Linked DNA regions of Homo sapiens: all the other regions are linked to region 2. Evidence: fine-mapped expression QTL. A gene starts in region 2. Each other region holds a variant in brackets. All regions are shown on one strand. Distances are from middle to middle.

Region 1 (2,705 bases), 110 kb before region 2:
TGCTTGGACTGTCCTAGCTACAATGGTTCCAACAGATAAATAGGCCTGCTATTTAATTATAGTTTTATTTATTTATTTATTTTTATTTTTTGAGATGGAGTCTCACTCTGTTGCCGAGGCTGGAGTGCAGTGGTGCCATCTCAGCTCACTGCAACCTGCGCCTCCCAGGTTCAAGCAATTCTTGTGCCTCAGTCTCCCATGTAGCTGGGACTACAGGTGCATGCCACCATGACTGGATAATTTGTATTTTTAGTAGAGACAGGGTTTCACCATGTTGCCCAGGCTGGTCTTGAACTCCTGACCGCAGGTAATCTGACCACCTCGGCCTCCCAAAGTGCTGGGAATATAGGCGTGAGCCACCGAGGCTGGCCTAATTATAGTTCTTAAAAAAGTATGCATCAATAAATTATTCTAAAACTAAAATCATAGCTTCATCATTTTGGCAAGATGCCCACGCCCTAATATGGGCAAGGAAGGAGAATGAGAAGCTAAATAGCAGCAACCTGTGCATCAGGCCTCAAAGCTCCAGAGACGTGTGGGCCTGGGAGATTGTGCCCTCCCGTCAGGGACATGGCTCTTGCAGGCACACACGGTAGGGTGTGTTTGAGAAACACTGAAGCAGAGCATACTTAGGAGAAGGCTGCCGTATGAGACCAGAACTTCCATTCTGCCAGAGAGCAAAGGGCTTGCACGTTTTCCCGCCCTGTAGATGATGTGAGTGTCAATGAAGTCTTAAGACTGGCCCCAAGCCCAACAGCCCCCCAGCCCCCACTTCTGTCTGTCCTCACTATCCTGAACACCAGGAAGGAGTCCTGATCAGGAACCCCGGAGCCAAATCTGGTGTACCCTGATTTTGGATTTCCAGCCCCCAGAACCATGAGGAATAAATGTCTGTCATTTAACCTGCCTCATCTATGATATTATGTCACAGCAGCCCAAACTGACAATGACAGTCCCCGCTTAGACAAAACCTAAGATGCTAAAACCCCTTTAAATCCCAGGCTGGATCCTGAACCTGCATGAAGTGTTTAGACCCCAGGACTATACGAGTCACAAAGGCTTCTGTCCCCATGGCGCTCATGAGTTAATGTTTTCACAAACCCAGGAGAAACACCAAACGGTGTTGCTTCACTGTTACACAGGAGTAGGCACCAAGCTCTTTAGGAAACAGCTGGTCTATTTTTCTCATTCCAAATCTAAACCTCAAAGCTAAATGCCGCAAGGTGAAGCTGAAGGCCGTACTCACGTCCAGAGACTCCAGGCAGTACCAGCAGAAGGCGTGCTTGCAGTTCTTGCACATCATCTGCGCGCAGCCTTCGTCTCGCTCGATGTAGACTTTGCACTTGGGGCAGCGCTTGATGGGCGCGTCATCTTCTTCCATTTTGAAAGCAGCACTGTGGGAGAAACGCC[G/A]TGAGGACTCTGCACAAACGGATCCCACGGGAGACCCAGGAGCACTGGCTATGCTGGAAGCATCGGCTCCACTTCACAGACTGAGTTTTCTTGGTATTAAATGAAAAAACAAAACAAAAACCAAAAAACAAAGAAACAGAAACTCCAGAAAAAAAAAATTAACCAGAACACTGTGAATCAGCCACTTTGAGTTAGGAAAAATTTTTAAAAAATTACAGCAACATCAACACATATCTAAATTTAGAGATATATGTATACAAACAAAAGAAAATACAGCGAAAGGCTTATTATAACGGAGGTATCTGAATCATAGTGTTAAGGTCAAATATTGTATCCTTATTCACAGAGCTGTCTACTTTCCAAAGGGTTGATATAAATTTTATGTACTTTGCTGTTATAAGAAAAATAAATAAATGTTGCAAATACACACACACAAACACACACTGTTTACTTGAGATAGATCCACCTGGCTCTTCTTACAGAATTGTTTTCCTCAGAAGTTGGCTAGGTCTGCAGGGTTAGCAAGAAGGGCTTTAAGCTGAGGTCAGAGCTGGGTCTGCTACAAACCAGCTGTGGAGCAACCCTCCAAGCCCTAGTTTTCTCATCAGTGTGACCATGAGAAAAGATTCCGTGTGCCAAGAGCACAGCGCAGGGTGCAGCTTTTATGAAGTGCTTGATAAAGGGTAGCAGTAGTTCAATGTTGCTAAAGAAAGATAACACAGACATTAGGTATGACTCACCCCATGCTGTTAATTTTTAAAAGATGGGTAAGAATATTCAGAAAAGCATCTGAAGGAATAAATGATAAACTGTTAAGAGGAGTTATCACTGATTATGGGGGTCCATTTGCTATATTGTTGGAACTCACTATATCAAACAAACATCAGCAGGAGAAAATGCATCCCTCCTTCTCGGGGCAGCTTTTTCAGAATTTAACACATGTATGGGTATATATTCACGGCAGTTGAGCAAATTCTGGCTTTTTGAGTGCATTCTGGCTGAAGGATCTCTCACAAGCTTCCAGTCAATATGAGCATTAAATGTAGTTTCACTTTAGTAGGAGCTGTCTGATGATTGGCAGTGAACAATCCTCCACTTGGGGTGCACATTCCAACTGAACGTGACTGTTTGGTCCATTAGTAGAAGGCAACAGAGTAAGAAATAATGAGAGAAGCAGTATGTCCTCCTAATTAGGAGCACAGAGTCTTGAGACAGACAGATCCTAGCTGTGCGATTTATGTGTTACGTGTCTCATCTGCAAACCAGATGAATAAGGCTAATAGCATCGATCTCTA
Region 2 (2,612 bases):
CCCGGCTAATTTTTTGTATTTTTAGTAGAGAGGGGGTTTCACCGTGGTCTCGATCTCCTGACCTCGTGATCCGCCCGCCTCAGCCTCCCAAAGTGCTGGGATTACAGGCGTGAGCCACCGCGCCCGGCCAGTTCAATGGATTTTAAAAATTATTATTCTCTAGAAAAAAGACCACGAACTTTGGAGTGGACATCCTGAGACCTGCCTACGAAGACCATTAGGGTAAAGAAGTCACCCCTTCACCCCAGGACCAGGAAGCCTCCAGGATGGCATAAGCGACCAAACAGCTGGGAGCCAAGCACAGTGCAGGGGGCTTGGGGTCGGCGGCCGGAGGCTGGGGTGGGTAAGACCCGCAGGGAACTCCGGGGCTCGGGCGGCGGCTCATTCCCCGGGAAAGGGCTCGCGGTGGGGACCAGGGGCAGTAGCAGCCGCGGACCCCGCGCGCAGGGGATGTGCGGGGCATCCTCTTGGCCAGTTCCGACCTTCCCCGCCGGTGGCGATGCCCCGGACGCGTCGTCCTTTCCCAGACCTCCTCTTGGGGCCGAGGCTCCAGCCCCAGGGTCTGCGGGCGGGGCCGCGAACCTTGAAAGCCCCCGCCGCCAGCTCGCCCGCGGGACCCTGGCCCGGGGCGCCCTGTCCCGCGCCGCAGCGCAGACCCGCGACCGCGCAGGGCAGGCAGGGGGACGCCAGGTCCCTAAGCGCCCACTGCCCTGGGGCGCGGGCGCCGCCTGCGAGAGGCAGGGCAGGGCAGGAGCAGAGCAGGGACGAGGTCAGGGACACGGGCAGGGCAGGGCGGGCGTCCTCTGAACGGAGCCCGCGAGTCCCCGCCCGGGACGCTGCCCCCCGCCCGCTGCCACCGGGCGCCGGGGCAGGACCCAGCGGGGCAGGCGCGGCCGCAAGCCCCGAGCCCCAAGGCCGGCCGCGCAGCGCCGCGTCCCGCCCTCCCCGCTCCGCGGCCGGCCCGGGCGATGCGGACACAAAGGGGACGCGCGTCACTCTACCTGGGCCTGCTCGTCCGCGGTGCGCGGCTCTGACGCCTCCGCCCGGTACTGGCTGCGGGGTGCCGGGTGCCCGCAGTTTGCCGCCCGCGCCTCCCCGCGCCCGCGCAGCCCGCACGGCCCGCACTGCAATGCCAGCCCTGCCGCCTCCCGCCTGCCGAGAGCCCGCGCGGGGAGAAGCGGCTGCGCGGGCGGGGCGCGAGCGCGCACAGAGGCCGGGCACGCGGGAGGCTCGGCCCCGGCCCCGCCCCCGCGCCGAGCCGCACAGCGCCCCCTGCCGCCCGCCTGCGCCGGCCCGAGGCCCGGAGCCGCCCCGCAGGCCCCAGGACAGGCTCCGGCACGAGGAGGGGCTGCGGAGACCGCCCGTGCACGCTAACATGAAAATGCTATTCCTGCTTTAGTGGCCTCCAGAAGACACTCCCCTGATTCCTACACCGAGGGAACACACAGCAGCAAGCTAGGAAAGAAGGGGTGACCCAGCCCAACGCTGTAAACCAGGGCGCGAACCGGCGTTGAGCTGTGCAGCTGCGCCCTGGGCTCCAGTCCTGCTCTGCCGCAGACCCCACCGGAGCCAGCACCTGCCTCCCCGACCCTCGCTGGGGCGGCTGTGAGATGAGCCCAGAGCCTTCCTGAGCCAACCCTCGCAAGGAAAGTCTGTCTGTTCACCCCACTATCCTTGTCTTGAAGGATGAAGAAAAGAGGGCCCCCCGGGAGGTCCCAAAAGGTGGAATGGACATCTGGGATCCAAGCACAGCAATTTCTTTATTTTTCTTAAGGTATCCAGCTTGTTGGAATCTAAGATCTGCGAAGGTATTAATAGAATTCCTGCATCTTCTGCCACTCCCCATAGAAGCTTGAAGTTACACAAATGTTAAATTATACGTCAGATGTGCATATATGAACAAAACCTACGAGTGTGCATGAAATAACACCTTCTTAAATATATAGATTCTTTTTTCTGCAATATTAAATGGAAACCCCACTAGAACATCGTTTTTCCTTAATAGCATACCCTCCACACTGTGTGGTCTAAATTCAAGCTCTACCACCTACTAGCCATTAAGCAAGTTATTAAGGTCTTCGTGCTTCCATTTTCTTACGTGGAAAATGAGGTGGCAATAGTATGTATGAGTTCTTCGGAGGGATTAAACAAGTCAAATAGGCCAAGTGCCATGGCTTACACCTGTAAGCCCAGCACTTTGGGAGGCCAAGGCAGGAGGACTGCTTGAGCCCAGGAGGTCAAGGCTGAAGTGAGCTGTGTTTGCATCACTGCACTCCAGCCTGGGCAGCAGAGTGAGACTTTGTCTCTCAATAAATAAAGAAATAGTCAAATTAAATATAACTGGCAAACTAAAACAACTCCATAGTCCTTAGCTACAATTTGTCTCATTTCTCCAAAGAATTAAATCAGATGATTCTTAACTAACTCAAAGCTCTGCATAATTTGTCTTCTGCTACACATACATCTTTATAGTAAAATAAAATAAAGCTGTCCCCTCTGTATTGAGAAGTTATTCTGGTAAATATTTGACCTCTTCAAATATATGAACGAGCACTTGCCTTCTAATGCCTCAGTTTCAGATTCTTTTTAGAAATGTCATTATTCAAGAAAAA
Region 3 (2,705 bases), 130 kb before region 2:
TACTTTCCACTCCACAGGCTGGGCATAGACCCCCATCTCCTCTTCGCTGCTCCTTTTGGCGGCTTCCTAACCTCATGTCCTGGCCCTCATCCTCTGCATCCAAGCTCCCCTACATGCAGCTACCGTGGCGTAGGCAAATCCCATATCTTATTGTGTCAGCACCAACCTTAACCTGAAATCCTCCAGCCTGGCTTAAACCTTAAAAAGTGCATCCCCTCTGTCCCTTACCGCTCTACCCCGTCCACCTGCTCCACCTCCAATCCCCTCACCCTACTGGAGCTCAGCTCTGCACTGAAGGTTTGCCAAGCTCTCTTGGGGCGTCTGCGGCTTTACTTGCATGGGTGTGTTTGTGTGGTGGCATTCCCTCCCAATCTGTGCTCTGAGCAACCCCCTGCTCTCTCCATCCCCGACCCCAATTCCGTCTCCTCCAGAAATTTGCTCTGACTTCTCCTGCAGGGGGTGGAGCTCCTCTCTGCTACCACCTGTGGAGTGTGATCATCACCTTCCGGCCTGCCGCACTAGACTGTGATGTCTCCGTGCATTTGCATTGGTCTGTGTGGTGTGGTACCAAGGCACTGATGAAGAAAAGGGAGGATCTAAACTTCAGTCCAAGCCCTGCCAGGAACTAGCTTCAAGACTGCACCCGAGGCATTCTGCCTCACTGAGCTTCTCCTTGTTTATAAATATAGACGGGGTCTGAGTGGTCCTGACAGCACTGGGATTCCAGCACTTCCTCCCTTGGGAGCTCCCGTTCCCTTCGACATTCCCCTCCAATGCTGGTATACAGAGTCCTAAGTCTTCCCCATGGAGGCCAGTGAGGGAGCCAAGAATCTGCTTGTCTTTCAAAAGACTGTTGCTCTCCATTCCCTTAAAGGTATATGAGAGAATTTATGCTACTGAAATATAGGCAACGGTGAAGAATTTGGATTTAACGACACAGGAAGCAGAAGGCTCTCAATGGTTTTCAACAGAAGCATCACAAGATGGAAACAGAGAATGCCCCAGGAACAGAATGGTGAGAAGGGAGGAGGCTGGGAGCAGAAGATACTTTAGGAGGCCCCAGGTGTGTCCACGAGAGACTGAAGAGGACCTGCATTAGTCTGTTCTCACTCTGCTAATAAAGACATACCCAAGGCTGAGGCATTTATAAGGAAAAAAGGTTTAACTGACTCACAGTTCCACATGGCTGGGGAGGACCCACAATCATGGCAGAAGGTGAAGGAGGAGCAAAGTCATGTCTTACTTGGCGGCAGGCAAGAGAGCTTGCGTAGGGGAACTCCCATTTATAAAACCATAAGATCTCCTGAGACTTATTCACTACCACGAGAACAATATGGGGAAACCACCACCATGGTTCAATTATCTCCACCTGGCGCCACCCTGGACGTGTGGGGATTGTTATAATTCAAAGTGAGATTTGGGTGGGGACACAGCCAAACCATATCAGGACCCGAACTGAGGACAGGGAACCAGGTCCTACTCACTCGTGAATTCATCTCCTGGGAAAGGCAAACAGTTCTTCCTTCAAAGTCATGA[C/A]CAGCTTCCAACGTGCAACCAAATGAAACTTGGTATCGAATGCATTTTCGACTGAAAAAGCCGAGGAGATTGTGCTTTTTCTTATGACTTTCATCACACATCCTGCCCCTGGCGTTTCCAAAAGCCGTTGCATTTGGACTGCTTTCCCTCCTAAGCCTGTGTTAGCCTCGCCTTCTGAGCTTCCCACAGTACACATTTTTTGCAGGTGCATTTGCTTGTATTTGCAAGACAGAAGCTCACTTTGTTGGAACTTTCTTTCCTCGGTCCCTCTTCATCGTCTTCATCTCCTAATTGGTGTTTGTAATAACTCCCAGCTTAGTATCATCTGCAAGTTTCATTAATATGTTGATTCCTCCTTTGTCATTAATAAAAACATTAAATTATTATTTAACATTCATTGTGCACCAACAATGTATTAAGAGTTGTGCAGAAATGAGAAAAAGATCCACTCTGACTGCAACCTCATTTTCGTGTCGTTGAAAACTCAAATCGCTGAGCACAGTTGAATTTTTGTCATCTTCATCCTTTGTGGATTCCAAGAGACTCGTTTTTCAGGATTTTGTATGCCAGGTGAAATCAGCAAACAAAATCTCCAGAGGTTTTCTCTCCTGAGTGTGAATGATGTTACCTAATCAGCCATTTCTCATTCATTGCCTTACCATTGATCAATAATTTATATACAGCCAATTTCACCTCCTTCCTGGACTTAGTTATTTTGGAAGCATCATTTGCTCATTCAAGCAACATTTGTTGAGCACTGACTGTGCTCAGCCACTATACAGTGTTTCTGAAAATGCGGTACCTTCATATCTCTGTTTCTCATCCCTTACCCTCCTCTGCCTGGAAGGCCAGCCCATCCCCCAACAGCCCCCGCTGAAAACTATTCAGCCTTCAACCCTCAACTCAGAGGGATACCTTTGCACAGGGAGCCTCCCCAGGCCCTGCCTTCCCTCCAGGTGCAGCCATTCATTCCTCCTCTGTGATCCTATAGGGCCCCACAAACCCTCTCATAGGAGAGTAATTGTCTACACTGTAAATCCCACCACATCCTGAGCCCCCGGTGGGGAGGAGGGACTAGGAGGCTTTGCATCTCTATCATTCTCAGTTGCCACGGGTTTCTGCAAAGTAGGTATCCAATGAAGAGCCTGTGGCACCCAAGACAGCTGTGT
Region 4 (2,705 bases), 76 kb before region 2:
TGGCAATTGGCTGCTCTGGCCTGGAGATCTGGGGAGAGCTTGTTTTTTGACAATGTTGAAAAAGCACTGGGTACAAGTTCTGTCGGGCTGTTGGGGAAGTTGCAGGGTAAAGAGTTCACGCTTTGCAGTCAAGCAGACCTGGCTTCAAATTCCTTTTTTTTGGCCACTTGGTTATGCTGATGTTGAAGATATCACATAACTTAAATTTAACTTCTGTGAACTCAATTTTTGTTTTTGTTGTTTTGTTTTTTCCCTCTGTAAAGCCTGTATCACCATCACCACTCATGTAGACTTGGGAAGAGTGAGTGAGAAGTAAGAAGCAATATATTAGAATAATATATCTAATATATAGATACTAGGAGCTTGGTAAGTAGAAGTCATTATGATATGTCAGGTTAACAAGCTTAGACTTTTACCTACATAGACAAAATGGATAAAACAAGCTGTTGGGAAGAGATATCATATGGTGAAATTAGTCATTTCGGAAGTTCAATCCAATGGAGAAAATTTTTAGAAGAATCAAACATCAAAACCTCCTAAAGCCTCCTCCCTTATCGACAGCCATGCACTATGCTCCCAGCCTGGACATCACCCGAGAACGCATTACCCAGAGGCAGAGCTTAACCGCTCCACAGAGGGCCCTGGAATCCCCACCTCCACCCCGCGTGAACAGTTCCCTGCCCCACAAGCCAGTTATAGCCTCTGTGCTGGACCTCTGCCCTGCCCCATCGTGCTTGTTCCCAAGACAATTCTCTCTCCTTCCAGCTTCAGATCTGGGCTCCTTTTCCTGTTTACTGCCTCTCTGTTGTGACCTCCTGGCACAGCGTACAGGGTTCCATCTGTCTGACTTCCTTTCTGCCTGGACCATGATTTCTATCTGGCCCCCAGTGGCTTCCCCTGCCCTGGGCACAGGTCAGCCCATGGCCCTCACCTCCCACTTCCCCCGCCAGCCCCATGAGCTGGATTTGAAGCAGGTCACAGCACCATTTCCAGGAATCACATCACTATTCTTTCCCCAACAGAATACACAGTCTCTGAGTTGTGCTCAAAATCGTGATTCAAATGGTGACAACAGGATATATTTTACAGAAAAAAAAGGGGTCTATATTGTCTAAACCCATCATGGACCTTCCCTACACACAGGATGGCCTTAATATGATTTTGCAAACAGCGAACAGCTGCGAACTTGCAATCAGATTATGCTAAGAGAATCACAATGCACAATAAAAGAAAGCACAGTCTTTGTTTTCCTAATGTGAATGTCAAGTCATATGAAATGGCAAACTGTTTTAGGAACATCTGGTCAATTATAAGTATTATTCAATTTAAGCAATTCAAAATGTGCATAAGGCAATTTACTTATTAAGCATGACTGAGACCGTGCAAAGGATTG[T/C]GCCTTGTGATGAAAGAGGTGTGGACACAAGGATAAGAGAGAGCTGGAAGAGAAAATAGTCCACTGTAGAGAGATTCAGCAGATTCCTGCAAGGTCCAAGGTGGTTATTTGACCAAAACTATCCCATCTCTGAGCCCCAGGGCTACGGACCTCTGTAGGCCCCTATTCTTCCCACCTTTACTCCTTCAAAGCAAACCTTGGAAAGGTAGGCAGCTGCCAGCCAGTCATCATCCACCTCTTACTTTCATGCCTTCCTCCAGCAAGTCCCTGCTCTCCTCCAGTTGCCTGGGACACTCTCATGTTTCCTCTGCAGCCTAACTCCCTTTTCCTTCCTTACCCGTTCTCCACACCCTACAAACCCTTCACACCCAGCATCAGTCCTGGTGCTGTGTGATGTCTCCTCTGATTTCTCACGTCTCCCCGCTGTCTCCCGTCTCTGGGTCTCTGCTGTGTGTGGTCCACCAGGCTTCGCAAGCAGCGCTCTCTAAACACCAGCATCAGCATCACCTGAGAACTTGCTGGAATGTAACTGGTTGGGCTCCAACCCCGACTCATTAAAACAGAAACTCTGGGGAGGTGGGTGGGGCGGCACAGTGATCTGTTTCCGTGAGCCTGGCAGGGACTGTGATGCACAATGAAGCCCAAGAACCACTGGTCAGTATCATTCCACTCAACAGCATTTCCAACCAAGTCTATCTCACTCAAGGCTGTGTGGGTCGAAGCCCACCAAGTGCACCGTTCTTCAACAATACCAAAACTCAGCTGTCCTGTCTACAAGGCCCTGGCCTACACTCTCATAGTAACTCCCATTTCTTCTGGGTAAGTGTGGCTTTGGAGGTCTACCATGTCACCAGTCTTTCTGGGTAAGTGTGACCCTCAAAGTCTGACATATGTGTGAATTTACCTCCCCAACTTGACGATACATTATTCAAGGGTAGGAACTATGTTCTAGCCTTCTGGACAGTGGTCACAGCAGCTATTCCATAATTATAACAACAATTATATATACATATATATATGTATTTATGAGAGAGATATATATGTATGTGTGTGTGTATATATATTATATATGTATGTATGAGAGAGAGAGACTGTTAAATGTACATCAGACATTGCGTTCGCCATTTGCATATACTACTTCATTTCTCTGCACAATGACTCTGAGACTTTGATAGTTTGCTATTATTCAAATTTTACCAATGAGTAAACCAAGGTTCGGAGAGGATTAGGGTAACCTGCACAAACATACAGGGCTATTTAGTCACAGTCTGTGTGGCCCTAAGACACAGCCATTTACTGTGCTACACCTCCT

Alleles and levels. Alleles are on the strand shown, and positions count from the first base shown. SD is a standard deviation of normalised expression in the study named. Not every link is listed here.
In carriers of allele A in region 1, the expression in cerebellar hemisphere of the gene that starts at base 1,212 in region 2 tends to be lower than with G alone (moderate effect, 0.44 SD a copy in GTEx).
In carriers of allele T in region 4, the expression in unexposed skin of the gene that starts at base 1,212 in region 2 tends to be higher than with C alone (large effect, 0.86 SD a copy in GTEx).

What was found.
Region 1: its variant is fine-mapped to the expression of RNF144A in cerebellar hemisphere (GTEx, PIP above 0.99). The same link has a PIP of 0.9 or more in cerebellum, left ventricle and tibial nerve.
Region 3: its variant is fine-mapped to the expression of RNF144A in whole blood (TOPMed, PIP above 0.99).
Region 4: its variant is fine-mapped to the expression of RNF144A in unexposed skin (GTEx, PIP above 0.99).

Annotation. Positions count from the first base shown.
Region 1 is chr2:7,023,058-7,025,762 of GRCh38, reverse strand. RNF144A (ring finger protein 144A) reads right to left here. Exons shown (of 9, transcript NM_014746.6): 7 at 1,247-1,394. Among named protein-coding and RNA genes, the nearest start is that of GRASLND, 110 kb to the right of the region's middle. The variant G/A (reference allele first, on the strand shown) is at 1,411.
Region 2 is chr2:6,916,012-6,918,623 of GRCh38, reverse strand. It overlaps RNF144A (ring finger protein 144A), which reads right to left and starts at 1,212. Exons shown (of 9, transcript NM_014746.6): 1 at 1,002-1,212. GRASLND (glycosaminoglycan regulatory associated long non-coding RNA) reads left to right here. Exons shown (of 5, transcript NR_033997.1): 1 at 1-222; 2 at 1,400-1,774. RefSeq lists a silencer at 883-1,372.
Region 3 is chr2:7,048,876-7,051,580 of GRCh38, reverse strand. It overlaps a transcript of RNF144A not described here. Among named protein-coding and RNA genes, the nearest start is that of GRASLND, 130 kb to the right of the region's middle. The variant C/A (reference allele first, on the strand shown) is at 1,537.
Region 4 is chr2:6,991,531-6,994,235 of GRCh38, reverse strand. All of the region lies in intron 2 of RNF144A (ring finger protein 144A), which reads right to left. Among named protein-coding and RNA genes, the nearest start is that of GRASLND, 74 kb to the right of the region's middle. The variant T/C (reference allele first, on the strand shown) is at 1,394.